Linked DNA regions of Homo sapiens. The protein of the gene in region 5 purifies or fractionates together with the protein of the main gene of each other region. This does not show direct contact. Each region holds a gene or a part of one and is shown on either strand. Other genes may lie near its edges. The genes, in order: HNRNPR, EXOSC1, MAP3K14, UPF2, EXOSC10, CTNNA1 and AICDA.

Region 1 (3,500 bases), about 12 Mb from region 5:
TGTTGTCAAGTATTGTGTTGTCAACTGCTGGCACAGTTCTTTGACCTCATCACTTTATTATCTATAGCTCCTTCTGGCTTCATGATCATTTATTCATTCTTTCAGCAGGTGTTTATTAAAGTTCCTGTTAAGTGCTGGCATTGTGCTATGTGCCTGGGATACACTGATGGCTAAGAGACATATTCTCTGCTTTCATAGATCCTATATCCTGAGAAAGGAGATAAGACCAAGAATATAAAAAATAAAAATTAAAGGAATATTTAGACATTGTGATAAGACACTGAAGCAGGAAATACAGGATATTTAGCTAGAGAATAGCTACTATCCCTGTTTCCATGGTTTTGGAAGACTTTTCTGATAAGATGACATGTCAACCAGCACCTGAAGGATGAAGAGGTTGTAGCATACAAAGAGCAAAAGGAAGTGCATTCCAAGACAGCAACACGTGCCAAGGTTCCAAGGCAAGAAAGAAGTCAGTATATTACAGTAACTGAGGAGGCCAGTATTATTAAAAGGTAGAATTAGGAGTAGAGTTGTATGAAATGAAGTAGGCAGGGCTTCTGTAGGCCATGTAAGGAGTTGGGTTTTTATTGTATATATAATGAGAAGGTATTTAAAGGTTTTAAGCAGGAAATAACACCTATTTCTTGTTTATGGGATATTATTCCTAGCGCTCTGTGGATAGGGGCTTGGAGAGAAGGGGTGTGAGTGGAAGCTGATAAATTAGTTGAAGCTGTCATACTAGTACAGATACAGGATTAGACTAGGGTAATAGCAGTGGAGATAGAAAGAAGTAAATGAGTTTGGAATTGGATAGGAGAGATGAAGGAAGAAATCAAGAATGGCTAACCAATTTCTGGCTTCAGAACCAGGTGGATGGCACTGTTTATTAGATAGGAAGTCTAGGGAAGGCAGATTTTGGCCATGGTGGTTCAGTTTTGGAAAAGTTAAATTTGCAATGTCTAAGACATCAAAGAGGATACATCGGGTAAGAACGTAGGCACATCTAGAGCTTAGAGAAGTCTGGGGTAGGAAAAAAATCTAAGTATTTATAAGGGTATAGGTAACATTTAAAAGTAGGGCTAGCTGACATTATTTAGAAAGAACACATACGGAGAGATAAGGGCAAAGGACTAAGACCAGAGGAACACTAATATTTAGTGATCACTTCCATTCTTGGTAAAAATAGTAACTTTTAAGTTAGCTTCAAGGAAGATTTTTGGCCATGATTAGTTGTCAAAAGTTAGTTCTCTTGGGTTTATATTACTAATTTTGTTTTTAAGATCCTTGTTAGTGCTTTAATAAAGTCATGTTATATCAAACGCTCTAAAACATTGTAGCATGTTAAATGTCAGAATATAGTAGATTTGTTGTATATGGCTGTACCTTCAGAACCCCTAAAATTAAAAAGGAACATCAAATACTGTCCCAAACCCCATATCTAATTATGTTGATCTAATTGTCTACAAAATTAGTGACTCATGTTGAGGCTGCTTCACTTATATTTTGCTCATCGTCAAGTGGATTTAGGTCTGCCTAATCGCTAGATGTGTGGTGGATGCTTTTGGCTTATATATCTGGCTGTTGGTTTAACAGAGGGTTTGGTGGACGTTATTCTCTATCATCAACCCGATGACAAAAAGAAGAATCGGGGGTTCTGCTTCCTTGAATATGAGGATCACAAGTCAGCAGCACAAGCCAGACGCCGGCTGATGAGTGGAAAAGTAAAAGTGTGGGGAAATGTAGTTACAGTTGAATGGGCTGACCCTGTGGAAGAACCAGATCCAGAAGTCATGGCTAAGGTAAATACAGTTGCTTGGAATGGGCATAGGGTCATCATTTAAATTTTGTACTCAGAATAAAGCTCAAATATTTTGAGTTTTATGATAAATAGAAATTGTAGCTTTAGACTTCAACTGTTTGGCAAGGAGCGGCTTTAACACTAAAGTTAACAGCCTGTCTTGGTATCCAGGAATTTCCATTAACAATCCCTTTTCCTGCAGATTAAATGTGCAAAAGGAACTGAAATGAAATTCCTTCAATTAAGTAGTCCCATACACACTGGGTGTTTGTTTAGTGCTAGGCACTGTGAGGGATAGAGGTTTTTTTTTTTTTTAAAAGTCCTGAGTAAAGAGAGAAGTAATGTTTTGGAGATTATAAGTTATAATCTTCATTGACTATATTATGACTTTATTACTTGGCCATGAATTATGTTTTATTTAGATTTATAGCTAATTTTTCTTTTTTTAAGCTTTTTTTGTAGTTTTTATTTTTAAAAATATTTTATTTATTATTATTATTTTTTGAGACAGAGTCTTGCTGTGTTGCCCAGGCTGGAGTGCAGTGGTACGATCTCGGCTCACTGCAACCTCCACCTCCCAGGTTCAAGCGATTCTCCTTCCTCAGCCTCCCAAGTAGCTGGGACTACAGGCGCCTGCCACCATGCCCGGCTAAATTTTGTATTTTTAGTAGAGACAGCATTTCACCATATTGCAGGCTGGTCTCGAACTCCTAAGCTCATGATCTACCCGCCTTGGCCTCCCAAAGTGCTGGGATTAAGGCATGAGCCACCGTGCCCCGCCTCTTGTTTTTAAATGATCAGATTCCCTTAGTGTATTGTCCCCATGAAGAAAGGCAAAAGATTGTCATGTTTGCTCTTATTTGTTAGTGGCAAAATATGCATGGCAAGTCCTGTAAAGGGCCCTCAATTCCCTCCTGATTCCTGTACTTGCGTTGCCAGGATCTTAATAGTGGTGCCTTGAGTACTGGTTCTTAAGTTTTCCTTTGGGCGACTCCTGGGACACATCAGAGTTGCATTTCTTTTTTTTTGAGATGGAGTCTTGCTTTGTCCCAGGCTGGAGTGCAGTGGCGCGATCTCCACTCACGGCAAGCTCTGCCTCCTGGGTTCACGCCATTCTCCTGCCTCAGCCTCCCAAGTAGCTGGGACTACAGGTGCCCGCCACCACAGCTGGCTAATTTTTTGTATTTTTAGTAGAGACGGGGTTTCACCATGTTAGCCAGGGTGGTGTCCATCTCCTGACCCTGTGAACCGCCCGCCTCGGCCTCCCAAAGTGCTGGGGTTACAGGTGTGAGCCACTGCGCCCGGCCTCAGAGTTGCATTTCTGCTGCTTGCAATGAGCTCTTGAGCATTTTAGTTGTCTCTTCCCTTCACAGGGAGGCAGCAACTCTGAATGGCCATGAGTTAATGGTTGGATTCTTCTTGATAAGTCAGAAGTCAAGGTTTTTATTCCAGAATTTGAGGAGGCAAACCCTCGTTCTAAGTAGTTTGGAGGAGAACTCTGGTTTATACTTGTATAAAGTCTGGGTTGGCAGTGACATCTTTGGGTTAATCAGATAAGTTCTATTCAGAATGAACCAGAGAGGCTCTCAGAAGTGCTACTCAGTATCTTTTATCTCATATTCCTTGAGTAGATGGGTGTCTAGGAAAGGGATAGAGAATTTAAATAGCTCTGAGTTTTTATTTTGATTTTTTACTAGCT
Region 2 (3,500 bases), on a different chromosome or scaffold from region 5:
CTAATGCCTGATGATCTGTCACTGTCTCCCATCACCCCCAGATGGGACCATCGAATTGCAGGGAAACAAACTCAGGGCTCCCGCTGATTCTATATTATGGTGAGCTGTATAATTATTTCATTATATATTACAGTGTAATAATAACAGAAATAAAGTGCACCATAAATGTAATGCACTTGAATCATTCTGCAACCACCCCCTCCATGGTCTGTGGAAAAACTGTCTTCCAAGAAACTGGTCCCTGGTGCCAAAAAGGTTGGGGACTGCTGCACTACAGAACCACATCAAATCCTGAGGCTGGAAAGGGCCTCAAAAGTTAGATTATCTGCCTGGCAAGAAATGTTTGTCCTTTCTCAAGGAAGCCACACGAAATCACCATCTCACCCACAAATCTTTTCAATGTTTTATAACCTCTGAGTTCAATCTATATTAAATTTTAAAGTGCTTCCTAAAATGCCTTCTACTTTTTTTTTTTTTTTTTTTGAGACGGAGTTTCACTCTTGTTGCCCAGGCTGGAGTACAATGGCACGATCTTGGCTCACCGCAAGCTCCGCCTCCCAGGTTCAAGTGATTCTCCTGCCTCAGCCTCCCTAGTAGCTGGGATTATAGGCATGTGCCACCACGCCTGGCTAATTTTGTATTTTTAGTAGAGACGGTGTTTCTCCATGTTGGTCAGGCTGGTCTCGAACTCCCGACCTCAGGTGATCCGCCCGCCTCGGCCTCCCAAAGTGCTGGGATTACAGGCATGAGCCACCACGCCCAGCCTGCCTTCTACTTTGGTTTGAGTCATCCTGACACTGCTAAACTTCAGCTTCACTCAATTCTTTTTGCTTTACCTTTTATTTATTTATTTGTTTTTTGAGACAGGGTCTCACTCTGTTGCCCAGGCTAGAGTGCAGTGGTGCAATCTCAGCTCACTGCAACCTCTGCCTCCTAGGCTCAAGTGATCTTCCTGCTTCAGCTCCACAAGTAGCTGGGAGTACAGGCACGCACCACCATGCCCAGCTAATTTTTTTTTTTTTTTTTTTTAAAGACAGAGTCTCGCTCTGTCCCCCAGGCTGGAGTGCAATGGCGCAATCTTGGCTCACTGCAACCTCTGCCTCCTGGGTTCAAGCGATTCTTTGGCTTCAGCCTCCTGAGCAGCTGGGATTACAGGCACACGCCAACATGTCCGGCTAGTTTTTGTATTTTTAGTAGAGACAGGGTTTCACCACACTGGCCAGGCTGGTCTCAAACCCCTGACTTTGTGATCCACCCACCTCAGCCTCCCAAAGTGATAGGATTACAGGTGTGAGCCACTGTGCCTGGCTAATTTTTGTATTTTTTACAGAGATGGGGTTTCACCATGTTGGCTAGGCTGGTCTCAAACTCCTGATCTCAAGAGATCCACCCGCCTCAGCTTCTCAAAGTGCTAGGATAACAGGCGTGAGCCACCGCGCCCAGCCTTTGCTTTACTTTTAAACCCTCTCGTTAATATTTTCCTTTTGTCCTAGATCATCCATGTATTTTTTGGATACTACTAGGGGAGAATCAAAGCACAAAGAAGAAAGAAAAACGGGCAAAAGAAAAATAGGAATTGTAACTGTTGCTCAAAATTCTGGTGTCCTAGTCTATCCTAATCTTATTCCAGTTGCTAAGGTATATGTGAAAAGGATACTTCTTACCGGATAGTTCCTCGAAAAGAGTTCTTAAGAGGCATGGACCCCACATACAGGATGTGTACTTTGGCAAAGCGTGAATTGATGCTAGAGACCTGCGGAATAGAGAAAAGATCAGCATCAGAGTATAAGCAGTTGTCAGCTCAAGGAGGCAGCAATAAACTGGGGATTACTAGGGCTTCAGTGCAAGCAACCCTACTAAGTAGAGAATTTAAGACAAATTAACTCCTACTTCTCTCTGCGTAAGTGACACATGTAAAGAGGAATAAGAGCCACTCTGGCCACCTGGTAGAGTTACTATGGGAAACAAAGGTGGTATGGGTTTTTTTTTTTTTTTTTTTTTGAGACGGAGTTTCACTCTTGTTGCCCAGGCTGGAGTGCAATGGCGCGATCTTGGCTCACCGCAACCTCCGCCTCCTGGGTTCAAATAATTCTCCTGCCTTAGCCTCCTGAATAGCTGGGATTACAGGCATGCACCACCATGCCCAGCTAATTTTGTATTTCTAGTAGAGACAGGGTTTCTCCATGTTGGTCAGGCTGGTCTCGAACTCCTGATCTCAGGTGATTCGCCTGCTTCAGCCTCCCAAAGTGCTGGGATTACAGGTGTAAGCCACTGCATCCGGCTGGGTTTTTTTTTTTTTTTTTAAATCTTTTCACAACTTGCCCTTCAGAGAGGTATAGACTTTTTAAAGTATAGATGGCTAACAATTAAAAAAAAAAAAAAAAAAGAGGCTGGACACAGTGGCTCATGCCTGTAATCCCAGCACTTTGGGAGGCTGAGGTGGGCGCATCACTTGAGGTCAGGAGTTCAGGACCAGCCTGGCCAACATGGTAAAACCCCACCTGTACTAAAAATACAAAAATTAGCCAGGCGTGGCAGCACATGCCTATAATCCCAGCTACTCGGGAGGCAGAGGCAGTAGAATTGCTTGAACCCAAGAGGCCAGAGGCTGCAGTGAGCCGAGATCGTGCCACTGCACTCCAGCCTGGGTGACAGAGCAAGGCCCTGTCTCAAAAAAAAAAAAACAGGAATGGCAAAAAATAAAGTCTTTTGCTTCTCTGCAGAAAAAGAACTCAGCTTCAGATGTTCAAAAATAGGCCTCCTAATCATCCTCTGGCATCCCTGTTTCCCAGACACAGGTAGAACTATGTATTCAGGGAATCAGCTCAGTGAAGGAACTATGCATGCCTGAACTTGGCTGCCTTGATTATTATCCTAGAAATCTGTAAGCCTGCACAGTCCAGTAAAACTTTCTGTGATGACAGAAAAGTCATGTGCTGACCAGTATAGCAACCACTAGCCACAAGTGGCTATTGAGTACTTGAAATGTGGCTAATGTGACTAAGGAAATCAATTTTATTTTTTTCTTGAGAGACAGAGTCTTGCCCTGTTACCCAAGCTGGAGTGATCATGGCTCACTGCAGCCTCAACCCCCTGGGCCCAAGCGATCTTCCTGCTTCAGCCTCCCAAGTAGTTGGGACCACAAGCATGTGCTACCATGCCTGGCTAATTTTTTATTCTTCTTCTTCTTTTTTTTTGAGACGGAGTCTCACTCTGTTGCCCAGGCTGGACTGCTGTGACGCAGGCTCACTGCAACCTCCACCTCCTGGGTTCAAGCACTTCTCCTGCCTCAGCCTCCCGAGTAGCTGGGATTACAGGCATGCACCACCACGCTAAGCTAATTTTTGTATTTTTGGTAGAGACAGGGTTTCACCATGTTGGCCATGATTGGCCAGGCTGGTCTTGAACTCCTGACCACAGGTGATCTGCCCACCTCGGCCTCCCAAAGTGCTGGGATTACAAGCATGAGCCACCATGCCCGGCAATTTTTGATTCTTTTT
Region 3 (3,500 bases), on a different chromosome or scaffold from region 5:
GCCCAGGCGGGCGGACTGCCTGAGGTTGTGAGATCGAGACCAGCCTGGCCAACATGGCAAAACGCTGCCTCCACTAGAAATACAAAAATTAGCTGGGTGTGGTGGTGGGTGCCTGTAATCCCAGCTACTCGGGAGGCTGAGGCACAAGAATCGCTTGAACCCGGGAGGTGGAGGTTGCAGTGAGCCGAGATTGTGCCACTGCACTCCAACCTAGGCAACAGAGTGAGACTCTGTCTCAAAAAATTAAAAAAAAAAATTAATTAATTAATTAATTAAAAAAATTTCAAGTGTCATCGAAATCAGCAACTTAGGGTATTTTGTGTAACTGAATATTCTGATTAAGTGGGGGCTGCCCTGTATGCCACTTAACATGACCAATTTCCAAAGATTAGATGGCCATAATTGCCCTTGACACTAAAATCATGTGAAACACAGCCAGTTTCTTTGATGACTCAAAACGTACTTTGTGATCTTGCCAAGCTTTGAGATCATCGTTACAAGCAGCATTTTGGTTGTGAAAAACAACTCTCCTTATTTAACCTTTTGGGGTGGATTCTGAGCAAGAAGTTCCCTAGGCTACGGTCAATCTCGCTGAAATACAACCACCCACCGCTCCTTTCTGGGTTTAGAAATCTGGTTTTCAGAGGTGGGAGTGGCTTCAAGCAGCGTCTACCTGTGTTCAGAAAAGATGAAGAAAGACAGGCTCAGGCTCCCTGTATAGGAGAATTCAAGTTCATTGTAGTCACTGGTGACTGGTTCTGAAATTGAGGAACTAGTTTGAGGAACTTCAGAATAAACAAGAAACCCAAAGAACTCAGCTTCCACAGAAGGCTTCCAATGCATGGAAGGAGGCACAGGTCCAGCTCCGCCCTGTGGCGGGGCAACCTTGACCCTGGCCTCATTTCAGATGCTGCCCCACATGCTCTTTGACAAGCTGGACCAAGTAACCAGCTTGAGGACATGAGTGGCAGAGGGGTCCCTTTATAATGAGGGGTCATATTCTTGTCCTCCCTTGGGAAGGTAAAAAAGGGCTTGGGACATGGGGCATGATGAGGAATATTCTCAGAGGATCTCACACGATTCTTTGGTAAAAGAGGGTAAATCATGAAACAGCCCACGGCTCTCTCGTCCTCCCCGAGGCCAGCAGGGCTTAGCGGGAGGAGTTTGGATTCAAGTCTTGTACTTTCACTCAACAGCAAATATTTAATCAGTGGCTACCATGTTTCAGGCACCGTGCTGGCCAGCAGGAATATGAGGATGACCAAGAGCCTTCTCTGTTGAAACCCTTGAAAGGCCTTCTTGGAATGCTGAACCCAGTTACCTAGAAGCACTGCCTTGATCTACCTGCCTACAACTCTCTAGTGGCACCAAGCCTATGGGATGTGCCAGTGTGGTCACTGCCCTCCCAATTCTCACTTGGAGGGGTGGGAGGTGGTCAGTTATGTGTTTATTAGCTGGCTACTCACTGTCTGATTCTACTTTGAACTATATTTTCTTTTTTGAGAAGAGGACTTGTTCTGTCACCCAGGCTGGAATGCAGTGGTACAACCATAGCTTACTACAGCCTCGAACTCCTGAGCTCAAGTGATCATCCCACCTCAGCCTCTGAAGTAGCTGGACTACAGGTAAGCACCACCATGCCCAGCTAATCTTTTTTTTTTTTTTTTGACAGAGTCTTGCTCTGTCGCCCAGGCTGGGGTGCAGTGGTGCGATCATGGCTCATTGCAACCTCTGCCTCCCAGGTTCAAGTGATTCTTGTGCCTCAGCCTCCCGAGTAGCTGGGATTACAAGTGCCCACCAACACACCTGGCTAATTTTTGTATTTTTAGTAGAGACGGGTCTCACCATGTTGGCCAGGCTGGTCTTGACCTCCTGGCCTCAAGTGGTCTGCCTGTCTTGGCCTCCCGAAGTGCTGGGATTACAGGTGTGAGCCACTGCGCCTGGCAATGTCCAGCTAGTTTAAAAAAATTTTTTTTTTGGAGGTGGATCTCACTATGTTGTCCAGGCTGGTCTCCAGTTCTTGGCCTAAAAGGCAATCCTCCTGCCTTAGCCTCCCAAGTCATTGGGATTACAGGCATGAGCCACTGTGCCCAAGCAACATTTGAGCAAATTTCTCCTGACTGTCCCTACGCTTCTGAAAATGCACTTCTTTCCCCCAGAGTGCTGAAGTTGCCCAACTGTTACCAAGCTCCCGCTCCAAGCTGACAAGTGGTACAAGACCCCAGGGTGAGAGAAATACCAAGGTGTTCCCACCCAGGCACCTGCAGAATCCGAGACGCTCTACGCCTGACAGTGCTGGCTCAGGCTGGAAAAGGAGGGCCACTGGGCTGCGCATGGTGGCCTCCTCGCTCCCTCCAGCTCCTATAGTCATGGCTCCTGACCAGCACCGGGGTTGACCTGTGAGATGTCTGCCTTCGTGCCCAGCTTACCCCTGTCTTGGTGAGGTCCTCCAGGGCGGTGCCTCAATTGTGTTTGGTTTTCTAGCACCTAGCAGACATGGCCCATTTGACACACTTGGCAAATGTTCCTGAGTGAAAGGACAGACACACTTCTGAGGAATAAATGAGTGCCACAGGCTCTGAGAGCCTGGCTGGACAGGGACACGTGTCCACACTGTCCAATCACCTGGCAGGCTGGAAGGGAGGGAGTCACAACTTGGTGGCTGTATTCTAACTGCACCCCAGCAAGCAGGTGTCCTGAAAGATGGCTGTGGAGCCTCTCCTGCCATCCCCTTTCCTAAATGCTGACCTAGAGACCCAATTACTTCTAATTGCTTGAGAAGATAACCCTTCTGAACTGGACAACACCCATCTGGGCTCGGATTTGCATATATTTGCAAGTATCTAATACATGCTAGAGGGAGGTGGTGCAGGACTCTGTCCTTCACATTGATCTATACAAAGCTATTCCTGCCTCTCCAGGCACAGCATCTGCCAGTGGAGACTGTTGGGCAGGACTCAAGGAGTCTGGTGGGTCCAATCAACTCCCTTGGCCAAAGGAGTCCATCTTTTTTTTTTTTTTTTTTTTTTTTGAGACGGAGTTTCGCTCTTGTCGCCCAGGCTGGAGTGCAATGGTGGATCTTGGCTCACTGCAACCTCCACCTCCCAGGTTCAAGTGATTCTCCTACCCCAGCCTCCCGAGTAGCTGGGATTACAGGCATGTGCCACCATGCCCAGCTAACTTTTTTGTATTTTTAGTAGAGATGGGGTTTCACCATGTTGGCCAGGATGGTCTCAATCTCTTGACCTTGTGATCCGCCCGCCTCAGCCTCCCAAAGCACTGGGATTACAGGCACGAGCCACCGTGCCCAGCCTCCATTTATAATCTTAACTGGCAACCACATCCTCATTGGAGGCTGGCTAAGCCTCCTTTTCCTCCCAACCCTCCTGGCTATCCCTAGTATGGACCAGAAACACCTACCTTTTAATTCTGGCCCAGTAAAAGGAAACTTTAATGTCAGTAGAAGGTGGGTGGTAGATTTTGGCTACAATAATTCTTTG
Region 4 (3,500 bases), on a different chromosome or scaffold from region 5:
TGATGGCAGAGAAAATAGGTTAAGGGTAGAATTACATTTTAACTGTTTTAGAAACAATTCATGTAATGATAGCTAAATTTAATACCTAACATGTTCTTTTTATGAAAACACTTTAAAGATAGCCATTTCCTAGAGAGAGAAAAGGACACCTAGAAGTAACCAGTTTATTAGAAAAGATCTGTCATTTCTCTATTCAGTGTTCTTTCAGTAATAGATATTTTCAAGTTACAGAGACAAGTTTAACCTGTTTTCATATACACTACTCCTCTTTAATGAAAATCTGTGGTTTTGTTGCCTTTTAGGTTAATCAACCTAAATTTAATCAGAGGCGCATCAGCAGTGCCAAGTTCTTAGGAGAACTTTACAATTACCGAATGGTGGAATCAGCTGTTATTTTCAGAACTCTGTATTCTTTTACCTCATTTGGTGTTAATCCTGATGGCTCTCCAAGTTCCCTGGACCCACCTGAGCATCTTTTCAGAATTAGACTCGTATGCACTATTCTGGACACATGTGGCCAGTACTTTGACAGAGGTTCCAGTAAACGAAAACTTGATTGTTTCCTTGTATATTTTCAGGTATATAAGCTGAAATATTCAGTTTGGCATCATTTAACATATTGCATGTGTTTTAAAAGAATACTATGAGAGAAGAAACGTTATGGTATTCATATATTATATATATGTTCATAATTAGATTATATTCTTCATATAAGAATGCTTTTGGAAATTTAAAGATATATGATGGATTCTATTGTATGAACATTCTCATTGCATATAACTTTTATGATTGATAATGATTGGTCATTAATTTTGGGAGTTGTTTTCATACAGTTTATAAATTTGGTTCAGTAATTTATGGACCGTGATATTTAATACAGTAATTTATTGATTAAATTACTTGTGATTTGTAATACATTTGTTAATGTTCTCTTCTCACTCATGTATATTCTGGTTTACATCTCAAATTCTTGTTTCTTTCTTTTTTTTTTTTTTAAATAGAAATGGGGTCTTGCTATGTTGGCCAGGTTGGTCTTGCACTCCTAGCCTCAAGTAAACCTCCCGCGTCAGCCTCCCAAAGTGTTAGGATTACAGGCATGAACCATCGCGCCCAGCCCAAATTCTTGTTTCTAAAAGATATATATATGTATATATATATATATATATTTTTTTTTTTGAGAGTAAGTCTTGCTGTGTCATCCAGGCTGGAGTGCAGTGGTGCAATCTCAGCTCACTGCAGCCTCCACCTCTCAGGTTCAAGCAATTCTCCTGCCTCAGCCTCCAGAGTACCTGGGATTACAGGTGTACTCCACCACACCCGGCTAATTTTTGTATTTTTGGTAGAGAGGGGGTTTCACCATGTTGGTTAGGCTGGTCTTGAACTCCTGACCTCAGGTGATCTGCCCACCTCGGCCTCCCAACGTTCTGGGATTAACAGGCGTGAGTCACTGTGCCCAGCCTAATTTTTTTTTAAAAAAAGAAAACCTATCATTTTTGAGGAAAATGTGTTATTTTTAATACAGTAAGAATATTTGTTCATTTATTTGTAAATTCTTGGGTTGTGTTTTCCATATCTTAATGTTGGGTTATTATATAAACTTGTGATTTAGACCAAGCACAATATAAATTAAATTCATATACAAATACAGGGACAGTACTACAACCTCTATAAAGTTTGTATTTCAGAGGTTAACTTATAGGTTGATTAGTTGGAGCCCAATTACTATTTCCCATAAAATACAATTTTCTAAGTGCCAATTAGGGTGAACAACTCACTATCAAGTGCTTTAAGTTTTACTAAGTGGTGATAGTACCATTCGATTCTATATAATCACAATTGTTAGTATTTTCATTTACCCATTATGAAGAAAATAAGTTTAATGTAACTTGAAGTATCAAAAATACATCCACATGGTGGCGTGTGTTAAGTTGGGGGTAAATATTCTTCGGGAATTGCGGTCTGTTAGCTTGCTCCTACCGCTATTCTTTTGCAGTAGAGGGAAACCTATTACTCCCTTACTTTCTGAATTGATGAGCAAAAAGTGGGGAAAAGGACTTGCAGATTTGAGGGTTGCAGTCCCTGTTGTATGTAAGGACCATCTTAAGTTGGATACTGTATTAAAAGCCAGAGTTTTGCTGCAAAATGGCAGCTATAACAGCATCCAAAGTAGAATCTCTCTCAGAAGAGAATCCTTTCGATTCACTCTGACATCTTAGGCTGAGAGAAAAGAAACACTCAGAAATATTCAGGAGCCAAAAGAGACAAAAATATTTTCCAAACTGATTAACAGACAAAAATGTGTAACAGAGCCATACCTAGGAATTGGAGTCAGAAGTGAGTGAGGCCTGGGTGATGAGGTCTGTGTGTTTCACCCAGAACATGGAGTGTACAGTTTAGTATTAGAAGGTCAGGAAGAAAGGATCCCCTGGAGCAGTGCTTTTAAACTTTCCTGTGCATCCATGTCCCCTGGGGACTTTGTAAAGATGCAGATTCTGATTCAGTTGACCTAGGGGGAGGCCTGAGATTCTACATTTCTAAGAAGCTCCCAGATGAGGTCCACACTTGGAGTAGCAAGGACCTGGAACAAACTGGAGAGGAAGAGTAAAACTCCCAGAGGAATACCTGTTCATATACTAGTAAATTCTTGGGTTGTGCTTTCAGTTAATGTAAATTTAGGAATTAAAACAAGTATAAAATAGAATGTGGGAACCAGGCTTGGAGTAGAGAGGGAAAATATCCACACCATGCCATATACACAGTAGATATTCAATAAATGCTTGTTGATGATTAGTGATTTTTATATATTTCAAAAACCGTATTTTCAGATACTTTAACTCTTCAAAAATCAAAGCAAGTAGCACAGAGAAAATAATGAACATTATCACAACGATGGCTTTGAATTTGGTTAAATTTGTAAAATTAAATATAGGAAATCAGTGCCTTGTTTTGGAGTACCTAAAAATTTATTTGGTATTTTATTTATAATATTTCCTTGCCTTAAAAAAACTGTGACAGTTATAATAAAAAGATATCTAGGGCCGGGCGCAGTGGCTCACACCTGTAATCCCAGCACTTTGGGAGGCCAAGGCGGGCGGATCACGAGGTCAGGAGATTGAGAACATCCTGGCTAACACAGTGAAACCCCGTCTCCACTAAAAATATTAAAAAGTAGCCGGGCGTGGTGGCATGCACCTGTAGTCCCAGCTGCTCGGGAGGCTGAGGCAGGAGAATGGCGTGAACCTGGGAGGCGGAGCTTGCAGTGAGCTGAGATGGCGCCACTGCACTCCAGACTGGGTGACAGAGCGAGACTCCATCTCAAAAAAAAAAAAAAAAAAAAAAAGATATTTAGTAAATTCACCAAATAGCTCAAGACCTGTATAGACAGAGGGAAATGATTGGAATAGGATCATTGCTGTTGACCATTAATAGAAATGGTAAGTGTCTTTTATAACCTTTCAGCTTAGTAGTTATAACTGGGAAACAGCACAATATAGTTTATT
Region 5 (3,500 bases):
GGAGGTAAAGGCTGTAGTGAGCTGTGTTCATGCCACCACACTCCAGTCTGGGCGACAGAGCAAGACCCTGTCTCAAAGAAGTTCCAACTCTACAAGAAGCCTGCATCTCTAATTTTGCTTTTACATCTTTTTTTTTTTTTTTTTTTGAGATGGAGTCTTACTCTATCACTCAGGCTGGAGTGCAGTGACGCCATCTTGGCTCACTGCAACCTCCACCTCCCAAGTTCAAGCGATTCTCCTGCCTCAGCCTCCCGAGTAGCTGGGATTACAGGCACACACCACCTCGCCTGGCTAATTTTTGTATTTTCAGTAGAGATGGGGTTTCACCATGTTGGCCAGGCTGGTCTCGAACTCCTGACCTCAGGTGATCCACCGGTCTCAGCCTCCCAAAGTGCTGGGATTACAGGCGTAAGCCACCGCGCCCAGCCTTCGTGTTTTACATCTATAAAATGGGAATAAGAGCAACTGCTACTTCTCAGGACTGCAGTGAGGTTTACATGAGGCAATGCTGTGTAGGCCCTTTGTGAACACAAACAGCAGGTTTTATTGCTAAGGCCCAGGTTGGGGTGTAAGGAGGAAATCACTACTCCTCAGATTGTTTTCATGTATATACTCCACAAAAGTGAAAATGTGGCAAAAAGGTAAGTACTCACGGCAGAAAGTCAGACACAGGCCAACACTTACATGTCTTGCTCAACCTGCTGGGTTCTCTGCTGATGGATGAAATCAGCCAGTGCAGGGGGGACGTCCAAGTCCTCAGGACGATCCTGTGGGCGTTCCCGCCTTTCCTTAGAGAGAGCTGGGGATCCCAGCAGTGACAAAAACATCATTAGCACATTCATGTCTTTTCTAATTACACAGGGGTAAACTGGTTCCCTTTGTTTTTTGGCTTTTTTTTTTGAGACAGGGTCATGTTCTGTCCCCCAGGCTGAAGTGTGGTGGCACAAGCACAGCTCACTGTAGCCTTGACCTCCTGGGCTCAAGTGATCCTCCCACTTCAGCCTCTGGAATAGCTGAACTGGGCTCCCTTTGAACAAAGGAGGGTGGGCTCCCTTTGAACAAAGAAGAGAGACCTGTACACCCTTCCTGGTTTTTGCATCAAATAAAGTGAGACTCAAACACAGGCAAAGTATGCACTATTTACCTTGAGGGAGAGGTTTCTGAGCATTGGGTTTGATGAAGATTTTAGGAAGAAATGGTGTGTTGGAATTGTCAATCTTCTCTCGAAACTTGAGCTGAGGTCGGATGATATTTTTTGCATGAAGCAGCCGGAAAGTTTCAGATTTTGCTTTTTTGCCATATTCTGCTGCCTATGATCAATGAATACAAATACTTTATAACACAGCAACTTGATGAATTAGAAAAGTAAATTCCAATTTATGACTTCTGAGGAGACAAGAACATCGCAAAGGTCATTCATTCATTTAAGAATGTATGTGCATGTAGAGGTCTCCAGAAAGAGAAGAAGAGGGTGTAATTAGTTTGTGTATGTTTATGAGAACAAACTAAAGGAGACAGTGGCCAGTTCTCTAATAAATTAGAACAGAAATGCATGTTAGAATGAGCAAAATCTCTGTTATGAAGCTGACATCAAGAGCTCTAGTTAATCTGAAAAGCCCTCACCTTACGGTTCCAGCTGGACACTACCGTTTTGGGGACCTGCAAGCCGGCAGGGAGGACAGGCTGTTGATTCTTGTTTACACCTGAGGCTTCATCCAGTAAAATACCCTAAGAGTAGAAGAGGTACTGGTTAAGCATTTTTCCTTTTGAGGTTAGCAGAGTTAACTACCTAACATTTTATTTATTTAACATGGAGTATCACTCTGTCACCCAGGCTGGAGTGCAGTGGCGCAATCTTGCCTCACTGCAACTCTTTACAGTTCTGAATTGGGCTCACTGCAACCTCTGCCTCCAGGGTTCAAGCGATTCTCCTGCCTCAGCCTCCCGAGTAGCTGGGATTACAGGTGTGCACCACCATACCTGGCTAATTTTTTATTTTTAGTAGAGATGGGGTTTCACCCGGTTGGCCAGGCTGGTCTCGAACTCCTGACCTCAAGTGATCCGCCCACCTGAGCCTCCCAAAATGCTGGGATTATAGGCGTGAGCCACCGTGCCCCACCTAATTACCTAACATTTTAAAGAGATTGGTATTCAGAGACATTTGTGTAAGAAAATATACATATATAAGAACAGATCAATGTATGTATCAAAACATCAAGTTGTATGTAATAAATATATAGATGGTCCCCAATGTATGACAGTTTGACTTGTAAGTTTTTGAGTTTACAATGATGTGAAAGTGATTTGCATTTAGTAGAATCCATATTTCAAGTACACTTACCACCTGTTTTTCTTTTTTCTTTTTTGAGACAGAGTCTTGCTCTGTTGCCAGGCTGAAGTGTAATGGCGTGATCTCAGCTAATTGCAACCTGCCTCCCGGGTTCAAGCGATTCTCCTGCCTCAGCCTCCCAAGTAATTGGGACTACAGGCATGCACCACCACGCCCAGCTAATTTTTGTATTTTTAGTAGAGACAGGGTTTCACCAGGTTGGCCAGGATGGTCTCGATCTCTTGACCTTGTGAGCTGCCTGCCTCGACCTCCCAAAGTGCTAGGATTACAGGCGTAAGCCACTGTGCCTGGCCCTGTTTTTCTTTTTTTTTTTTTTGAGAGGGAGTCTCACTCTGTTGCCCAGGCTGGAGTGCAGTGGTCCAATCTCAGCTTGCTGCAGTCTTCGCCTCCTGGGTTCAAGCAATTCTCATGCCTCAGCCTCCCGAGTATCTGGGACTACAGGTGCACGCCACCACGCCCAGCTAATTTTTGTATTTTTTAGTAGAGATGGGGTTTCACTATGTTGACCAAGCTGGTCTTGAACTCTTGACCTCAAGTGATCCACCTGCCTTGGCCTCCCAAAATGCTAGGATTACAGGCATGAGCTACTGTGCCCGGCCACAACCTGTTTTTCACTTTCAGAAGTGTATTCAATGCTACTTGAATTACATGAGATGAATATTCAACACTGTATTATAAAAATAGGCTTTGTGTAAGATTTTGCCCAACTGTAGACTAATGGAAGTTTTCTGAGCACATTTAAAGCAGGTTCAGTTAAGCTATTTGGTAAGTGAGGTGTATTAAATGCATTTTTGACTTATAATATAGGTTTATTGAGACATAACCATGTAAATGATCGCCTATACAATTTTTGTCAATAAAAAAATAAAAATTTTACAAAGTTGATCAATAAAGGTCATTAGTATGTCATGCCAAGTAATTAATGCATTATTTGCTCAAAGGCAGGTAGGACAGTAATTACCCATGCCCAATACTCGATTGACTCTTTAAAGCTCTGAATTGGGCTGAAAATTCTAATATGATTTAACAGTGTAATGTGGCCACTAAAATAACTAAGAAGTCCCTGGACTGCATACATTAAATATAGAAGTACACTATTTAGAATGAAACTGCAGGGAGTCCTCATCTATTTTGCACTTTAAAGCAGACG
Region 6 (3,500 bases), on a different chromosome or scaffold from region 5:
AAGATCAGTCTCCCCACCTAGACAATTACACTGGCATAATTAGTCAGATGTAATTCTGGGGACTGTTGAAGAAAGCTTGCAACTTCCAAGGAAAGACTGGGACAGTAAATTGGGTTAATTTCAGTCAATTTCAGCCCTTAGCTGAGCAGCAGCTACCCCATTCCCTAGCCCCCAGCCACGGGCAGACAACCTACAATGCATTCCTGAAACAGCTTGCAAGCAGCTTTTGGGAACCAGGATGGGTAATAAGGACCCTGTCCTCCAAATATTAGGGATCCGTATTCTAATTGCTGATTGCTGCTTATAATCAGGGATAGGCAGACACTGAGAAGGATAGCCATTATTGCACCCCCTCCATGACTGCAAGTCCTCCCCCTCCAGCTGAAGTAGACTTCCAGGAAATTTAATGGGCCAAGGGCCCCCACCTCCCTACTTCCTTCATTTTTCTCTTTTTCCTCTTTAGGAGCTAGACTTTAAAGACTAGGATATTCAAAAGCAATCATGAGGGTGCGGGGGAGATAAGGAAAAAAGTTACCATGGTGCATGCGCCCAGGGAAAGGTGCAGGCTCAAAAAAGACCTGAGAAGTCCTTAAGTTTGTATCTCAGGCTGATCCTCAGCATAAAAACAAACTGTAACAAATAAACAAAAAAATCCAGCAAACCCTGGGAATGAGAAGAGTCCAATTTTCAGAGTTAGCACATCATTAGATTCAAATGTCCAGTTTTCAAAAAAAAATTAAAAAGTCCCAGGTCATACAAAGATACAGGAAAGTATGACCCATTAAAAGAAAAAAAAAATTAACCAATAAAAACTGTCCCAGTTGCTGGGCACGGTGGCTCATGCCTGTAATCCCAGTACTTTGGGAAGCCAAGGCTGGCTGATCACCTGAGGTCAGGAGTTCAAGACCAGCCTGACCAACATGGAGAATCCCTGTCTCTACTTAAAATACAAAATTAGCCAGGTGTGGTGGCGCATGCCTGTAATCCCAGCTACTCAAGAGGCTGAGGCAGGAGAATCGCTTAAAGCCAGGAGGCAGTGCAGTGAGCCAAGATCACGCCATTGCACTCCAGTCCGGGCAACGAGAGCAAAACTCCATCTCAAAAAAAAAACAAAAACTGTCCCAGAGAAAGACCAGATGGAAGACCTACTAGACAAAGACATTAAAACAACTGTCTTACAGATGTTCAAAAAACTAAAGGAAGGTATGGGAAAAATCAAGAAAATAATGTATTTTAAAAATAAAAATATCAGCCGGGTGTGGTGGCTCACACCTGTAATCCCAGCACCTTGGGAGGCCGAGGTGGGCAGATCACGAGGTCAAGAGATCAAGACTATCCTGGCCAACATGGTGAAATGCCATCTCTACTAAAAATACAAAAATTAGCTGGGCGTGGTGGCATGTGCCTGTAGTCCAGCTATTTGCGAGGCTGAGGCAGGAGAATCACTTGAACACGGGAGGCAGAGGTTGCAGTGAGCCAAGATCGTGCCACTGCACTCCAGCCTGGTGACAGAGCGAGACTCCGTCTCAACAACAACAACAAACAAACAAAAAAAGTTAGCCGGGTGTGGTGGCAGGCGCCTGCAGTCCCAGCTACTAGGGAGGCTGAGGCAGGAGAACGGCATGAACCCGGGAGGCGGAGGTTGCAGGGAGCCAAGATCGCACCACTGCACTCCAGCCTGGGTGACAGAGCAAGACTCCATCTCAAAAAAAAATAAAAATAAATAAAATAAATAAAATTAAAATACCAGATTAGCCAGGTGTGGTGGCACATGCCTGTAATCCCAGCTACTTGGGAGGCTGAGGCAGAAGAATCACTTGAACCCAGGAGACAGAGGTTGCAGTGAGCCGACATCACGCCATTGCACTCCAGCCTGGGCAACAAGAGCAAAACTCCATCTCAAAAAAAAAAGAAATAGGAGAAAAAAAGAATATATTACACATAAGCTGAGGACTGCATGGAGAGGATTTCATCAGTGATTAGATCTGGGTGGCAAGGAAGAAGAATGGGCTGTAGATGGTTCTCAGTTTGCCCAAATTTGTTATTGGAGGCCCTCCATAATCTGACTGTTGCCTCATCTGTTATCATTCCATCCACAAGCTAGACTCCAGGCAGAAAAGACTTTTTCCTCCTTCACTCAACAAGCATCTAATTTGCCCTCCATGCCAGGTACTAAGCACCAAGACAAGAACTAAGACTCTCAGTTCCTGCCTTCAAGGAGCTTACAAGGCTCCCTTCCTAGCAGTAAAGGCAAACAGGTACATCAATAATAACGTACAGCATAATGTAATGCACCACCCAGTGCTAAAAAATTTGCTACCAGAAACGAAAGTGCTGAGTCTTAAGATATGACTAAAAGCTCATCATGAAAGGTTATGTTGGGAGAGTAGAAGGGAATCACTGAGGAAGCAACTTTACCCTAGGCCCCCAACATCCAGTCCATTTTCTTTTTTTCTGAGTCAGGGTCTCACTGTGTTGCCCAGGCTGGAGTGCAGGGGCATGATCATAGTTCACAGCAGCCTTGAACTGTTTTTAAATACTGTATGCCTCAGCGGCATTACATATATTCACGATCCATTTCCAGAACTTTTTTCATCTTCCCAAACCGAACTCTGTACCCATAACAATAGCTCCCTATTCCCCTTCACCTGGCCCCTAACAACCACCATTCTGTTTTCTTTCTTTCTCCTTCCTTCCTCCCTCCCTTCCTCCCTTTTTTTCTTTTGTTTGAGACAGGGTCTCACTCTGTCACCCAGGCTGCAGTGTGACATGATCAGAGCTCACTGCAACCTCCACCTCCCAAGCTCAAGCAATGAATCCTACCACCTCAGCCTCCTGAGTAGCTGGGACTACAGAGCGTGTCACCATGCCTGGTTGATTTTTTTTTTTTTAGAGGCGGGGTCTCATAAAGTTGCTCAGGCTGGTCTTGAACTCCTAGCTTCAAGTGATCCTCCCAACTCAGCCTCCCAAAAAAACAGGATTATAGGCATGAGCCTCCCTGTCCAGCCCCAATCCATATTTAAGTCCTGTCTCATTTCTCCAAAATACAGCTCCCTTCATCCCTACCACCTCGTACTCCACCATCTTCCTAGCTCAACTCTCTGCTTCCACATGCACACAAACACAAGCCTTCTCCAAGCACTAGCAGGAGTCTTAAAAAGGAAATCAAATCATGAAACTCCCTACAATGGCTTCTTACACCTCTAGAATAAAACCCCAACATGGCCTCTGCCTTCTCTGGCAATCTCATGTGAGGTCTTCTCCCCACTGAAAAAGTACCCAAGCTATACAAGTCTTCTCTCAAGTCTCTAAACACACGGAGTCTTTCCTGTCTCAGGACCTCTACAAATGCAGAGGGCCCTGTTCCTTCTCTCCATATTCTCACCAGCACACAACACTACCCCCAACAATCAGGGCTGTCTGTTATGCCCCACAGTGAGTTACGTTCTCAAAGAAATCCGAAAGTGCGGTGGCTCACACCTGTAATCCCAGCACTTTAG
Region 7 (4,082 bases), on a different chromosome or scaffold from region 5:
GGTCCTGTCACCCAGGCTGGAGTGCAGTGGCGCAAGCACTGCTCAGTGCAGCCTTGACCTCCTGGGCTCCAACGATTCTCCTGCCTCAGCCCCCTAGTAGCTGGGACCACAGGCACATGCCACCATGCCCGGCTAATTTTTGTTATAGAAACAGCGTTTTGCCATGTTGCTCAGGCTGGTCTTGAACTCCAGGGCTCAAGCGATCCACCCACCTCAGCCTCCCAGAGTGCTGGGATTACAGGCGTGAGCCACCACACCTGGCTGTCTGTTTCACTTTAAATGTCTCCCCTCACGTACATGAAGCTTACTGGAAAGCACTTTAAACTTTAGGCAGCAAACTAGATTTATTGCCAGTATACACATTACATAAGGTAAAAATTAGCCATATTATTTTAAAATTTAAAATGCATATTTTAATCTAAATGGATCCTAGGCCAGATGCAGTGGCTCATGACTGTATCCCAACACTTTGGGAGGCCAAGGCAGGAGGATTGCTTGAGCCCAGGAGTTCAAGACTGCAGAAAGCTATGATTGCACCACTGCACTCCAGCCTGGGTAACAGGGTGAGATTGTCTTTTAAAAAATCAAAAACATAAAAAACATAAAATGAATACTAAAAAAGATCCAATAATAATTAGCTTTATTTTAAAAGGATAATAATTTTTATGGTAATTACCATAGTACCAACCACCATTACTATTACTATATTAGCATATAATAACCCTTTGTATATATAAGCTCAACACATAATAGGTGCTTAATAAGTACAGAAGAAAAGAAATTCTCTCTTTGAGGCCCAGTGTTAAACAGATTAAGCATCATCTCTTACCAATAAATCCCTCTTATATTAACTTACCCTCCTGGGCTGTGTAGATGAGAAAGGCAGAGGAATCTACATCTTTTTACATGCACCTTGGTTGGCGGGGTGTGTGTTTGTGTGTGTGTGTGTGTGTGTGTGTGTGTGTGTGTGTGTGTGTGTGGAGAGAGAGAGAGCCTTATCATAAGGAAGAAAAAGTGTCCTGGAAGTATAGATAAGAAGGATGTGGCATAGATAAAGGACTTTGGGTGGATTTTTGGGTCCTACTCTACATGAAAATACAATAAGCCTACACTGTTTCTGTCACATGTTACCAGTCAGAGTGAAATGAATTGCGTGATCCTGACCTGCTAGTTAACTTTGTTGATCCATTACTTCCCTTCTCTGGTTAGGGGCCTGTTTCCAGCTCCCTGTTCTCGTCATTTCTGTCCTGAGTAGGAAGGACTTTACCGAGGGAGTGTTTCAGGCTTGCAGGCTGACAGCTGCTCTGGACAGCTGTGCTCCCTGAGGCAGAACCCTAGCTGCATCCCCAGCCGTGCAAACCAGAAACAAGCGGGTTAAAAATAATCCTGACCAAGTCATTTTGCCATCACTAATGAGCTCTACAGATACTGTCCTCCTTAATGATAATATATTTCCCTTCTGTCCTGTTGAATTTCATCTTTTCTCCTTTTCTGTCTTTCTCTGAATTTCAACTGCTGATTTTACCTTTGCTTTCCATTTTACTTTGAACAAGTATTTCCAATGGACCCTTCACAAGGACCTATAGCTCAGACTTGTTTTCAAAATCTCAGTGTAAACTGAGGAGACATTTGACATTGTCTGACCTCAAGAAAATTTTCTGAAGAACATTAAATCCTCCATTAAAAATCTTTATTCTGTATATTGGATGTGATGGCTCATGTCTATAATTCCAGCACTTTAGGAGGCCCAGGCAGGAGGATCGCTTGGGCCAGGACTTAGAGACCAGCCTCGGCTGGGCTAAGACCCTGTCTCTACAAAAAAATATATTTTTAAAAAATCTTTATTCTGTAATGTAAGTTCTTTATAAAGGAGTTAAATTGAGGTAAAGTATAAGGATTAGGTGTTATTCTCATACATCCATAGTAATCATAAATGTAGGAATAGAATAAGTTCTATGACAATAACCTATCAAAAACTGCACATAAAGACATTATGAGGACCTTAACCAAATTCACACCTAAGAGGTAAGTTAAGCTACGTCTGAACAAATGGAAAGATTAGTTAATAGTAAAAGTGCCATTAACTGCCTAACAATTGGGCCTTTAACATTAAATAACTTGCTTGAATGAATTTGTCTCCTTATAATGGACACAATCATAGTGACTTTCAAGCAATTAATTTAGAATGCTTGGCATTTCTAAAATTACAAATTTTCTTACTATAGCTAAATTATTTCAGTAACGCCTCCCTAGGAAAGTGTGTCTTCAAGTTGTTTTACTGTTGAATATTTACAAAATTATTACGAAAATTAGCACTACCGTTTTTAGTACAGTACTGCTATTACCTTTTCATGATTTGAGTCTCTAAAGATTTGCTATGTTAATATTATTACCATAAATTAGTTTCAACCATGGTACAAATCTCAGGACGAATCAGTACATTGTACGCACTACTTCTTTTGCCACATGAAAAAGAGGGAAATCAAGAGAAGTCTGAAACAGAAAGAATTGGGCTGACAGCGTATAAGATCTGAATAGAAGAAAAGGAGACAGATCAAAAAATATATATGCATATTGATCAAGCTGATCTTATCAGTCAGACAGTTACATGAGAGAAAGGGATAGCTACCAGTCTCATTACTCAGATTTGCTCTGAGAGGAAGGCCAGTGCAATCACCCACGAGAAGACTGCCTCTTTACCTGTCCATAGTGGTGTCCAGAGTGTCTTCTTGCCTCCCTGCAAGTCTCAGGCCAGAAAAATCTCACTTCAATTAATGATGGTTCTCTGTCTTAGTCTGACAGTGCATTGGCCCTTCACATTCAAATTTGAGCTTGCCCTTTTGGGCTCCTCCCCTGACAGCATCACCCCCACCAGGTACCCCAACGGCCTTGCTCCTGATTTGGATCCAGTGAAGATGGGTGGGTGGGGCTGTCATAGGCAGAGTCACACAGGTTAAACCATTGAGGGCAGCTCTGCTTTAATGTTTAGGTTCCTTTGGGGCTGCTGCTCTAAAAGCCCAGTCCATGCTCCATAGCTAGCAAAGATCAGGAGGCAGTAACAGTAGACACTTCAATTATAATCATGATAACACAAAATAAAAGCACAATGAGAATAGTAATATTTATGTAAATACCTTAAAGAGCATTTAAATAGCTTCTTGGGTTATTGTGTTGAAGAGCCTCAGATAGCCTCTAATTCCCCCATATTCCCACAGTCTCTCTGAACCTCAGTACAGACAGGCACTAGCAGCTCCTGCTTTGCAGTTAAGCAAATGAACTCAGTTATATAGAATTTAGAACACAAAAATTTTGCCTCCCAAACCATGGATTTTTTTCTTTCTGATTGCATTACAAGAATTGCTTGAAGACTAGATATTTACACCAAAGAGTGATTTTTGCATGAGCCATCTTTTTTAGAAAAAAAAAAAATCCTTAATTTGGAGTCAGAAGCAGCAGCAGTCCCCCAAAATACAAAAATGCTTGTTTCACCAGACAGATTCAGTGTCTAACTGGCTGCACTGAATTTGGAAAACAGGCTAAGATCTTCAAATAAAAGACTTTAATTTTGTGCTCTCATAGAACTTGGTCTATTAAAGATTTTATTTCTCTCTCCTACTGTAGCCCATATGCATTCTATTTATTCACTGAGTAGATACTTCATGCCTACTGTTAATGGAAACTATGCCAGGTGCTAGGGATGCAATGCTAAGCAATGCAGCTAGGGTCTCTGCTCTCTTCCTGCCTCAAGCCTTTGATACCATCTATACCTTGATGATTTTCAAATCAATAGCCCTAGCTTGGACCATGTATTCGTCTGTTCTCACACTGCTAATAAAGACATGCCTGAGACTGGGTAATTTATAAAGGAAAGAGGTTTAGTTGACTCACAGTTCCACATGGCTGGGGAGGCCTCACAATCATGGCAGAAGAGCAAGGGACATCTTACATGGTGGTAGGCAAGAGAGAGCTCACGCAGGGGGAAATCCCTTTATAAAACCATCAGATCTTGTGAGACTTATTCACTATCATGAGAACAGCATGGGAAAGACCCACCCCCATTGTTCAACTACCTCCCACTGGGT

Evidence for each region.
Region 1: the proteins of EXOSC10 (region 5) and HNRNPR fractionate together in Homo sapiens (co-fractionation; one large-scale study listed by BioGRID). This does not show direct contact.
Region 2: the proteins of EXOSC10 (region 5) and EXOSC1 purify together in Homo sapiens (co-immunoprecipitation; 9 studies listed by BioGRID and IntAct, with this or other methods). This does not show direct contact.
Region 3: the proteins of EXOSC10 (region 5) and MAP3K14 purify together in Homo sapiens (tandem affinity purification; one large-scale study listed by IntAct). This does not show direct contact.
Region 4: the proteins of EXOSC10 (region 5) and UPF2 purify together in Homo sapiens (affinity purification with western blotting; 2 studies listed by BioGRID, with this or other methods). This does not show direct contact.
Region 6: the proteins of EXOSC10 (region 5) and CTNNA1 purify together in Homo sapiens (co-immunoprecipitation; one large-scale study listed by IntAct). This does not show direct contact.
Region 7: the proteins of EXOSC10 (region 5) and AICDA purify together in Homo sapiens (affinity purification with western blotting; 2 studies listed by BioGRID, with this or other methods). This does not show direct contact.

What each region holds. Positions count from the first base shown.
Region 1 is NC_000001.11:23,316,785-23,320,284, reverse strand, and holds part of HNRNPR (heterogeneous nuclear ribonucleoprotein R), read left to right. Parts: intron 1-1,587; coding exon of another isoform or gene 1,588-1,596; coding exon 1,597-1,802; intron 1,803-3,500. UniProt on the Homo sapiens protein: Component of ribonucleosomes, which are complexes of at least 20 other different heterogeneous nuclear ribonucleoproteins (hnRNP). hnRNP play an important role in processing of precursor mRNA in the nucleus.
Region 2 is NC_000010.11:97,439,507-97,443,006, forward strand, and holds part of EXOSC1 (exosome complex component CSL4), read right to left. Parts: intron 1,754-3,500; coding exon 1,665-1,753; intron 1-1,664. UniProt on the Homo sapiens protein: Non-catalytic component of the RNA exosome complex which has 3'->5' exoribonuclease activity and participates in a multitude of cellular RNA processing and degradation events.
Region 3 is NC_000017.11:45,307,021-45,310,520, forward strand, and holds part of MAP3K14 (mitogen-activated protein kinase kinase kinase 14), read right to left. Parts: intron 1-3,500.
Region 4 is NC_000010.11:11,952,310-11,955,809, reverse strand, and holds part of UPF2 (regulator of nonsense transcripts 2), read left to right. Parts: intron 1-302; coding exon 303-578; intron 579-3,500. UniProt on the Homo sapiens protein: Involved in nonsense-mediated decay (NMD) of mRNAs containing premature stop codons by associating with the nuclear exon junction complex (EJC).
Region 5 is NC_000001.11:11,089,870-11,093,369, forward strand, and holds part of EXOSC10 (exosome complex component 10), read right to left. Parts: intron 1,729-3,500; coding exon 1,624-1,728; intron 1,311-1,623; coding exon 1,145-1,310; intron 800-1,144; coding exon 685-799; intron 1-684. UniProt on the Homo sapiens protein: Catalytic component of the RNA exosome complex which has 3'->5' exoribonuclease activity and participates in a multitude of cellular RNA processing and degradation events.
Region 6 is NC_000005.10:138,756,425-138,759,924, reverse strand, and holds part of CTNNA1 (catenin alpha-1), read right to left. Parts: intron 1-3,500. UniProt on the Homo sapiens protein: Associates with the cytoplasmic domain of a variety of cadherins. The association of catenins to cadherins produces a complex which is linked to the actin filament network, and which seems to be of primary importance for cadherins cell-adhesion properties.
Region 7 is NC_000012.12:8,610,060-8,614,141, forward strand, and holds the start of AICDA (single-stranded DNA cytosine deaminase), read right to left. Parts: upstream 2,801-4,082; 5' UTR 2,709-2,800; coding exon 2,701-2,708; intron 1-2,700. UniProt on the Homo sapiens protein: Single-stranded DNA-specific cytidine deaminase. Involved in somatic hypermutation (SHM), gene conversion, and class-switch recombination (CSR) in B-lymphocytes by deaminating C to U during transcription of Ig-variable (V) and Ig-switch (S) region DNA.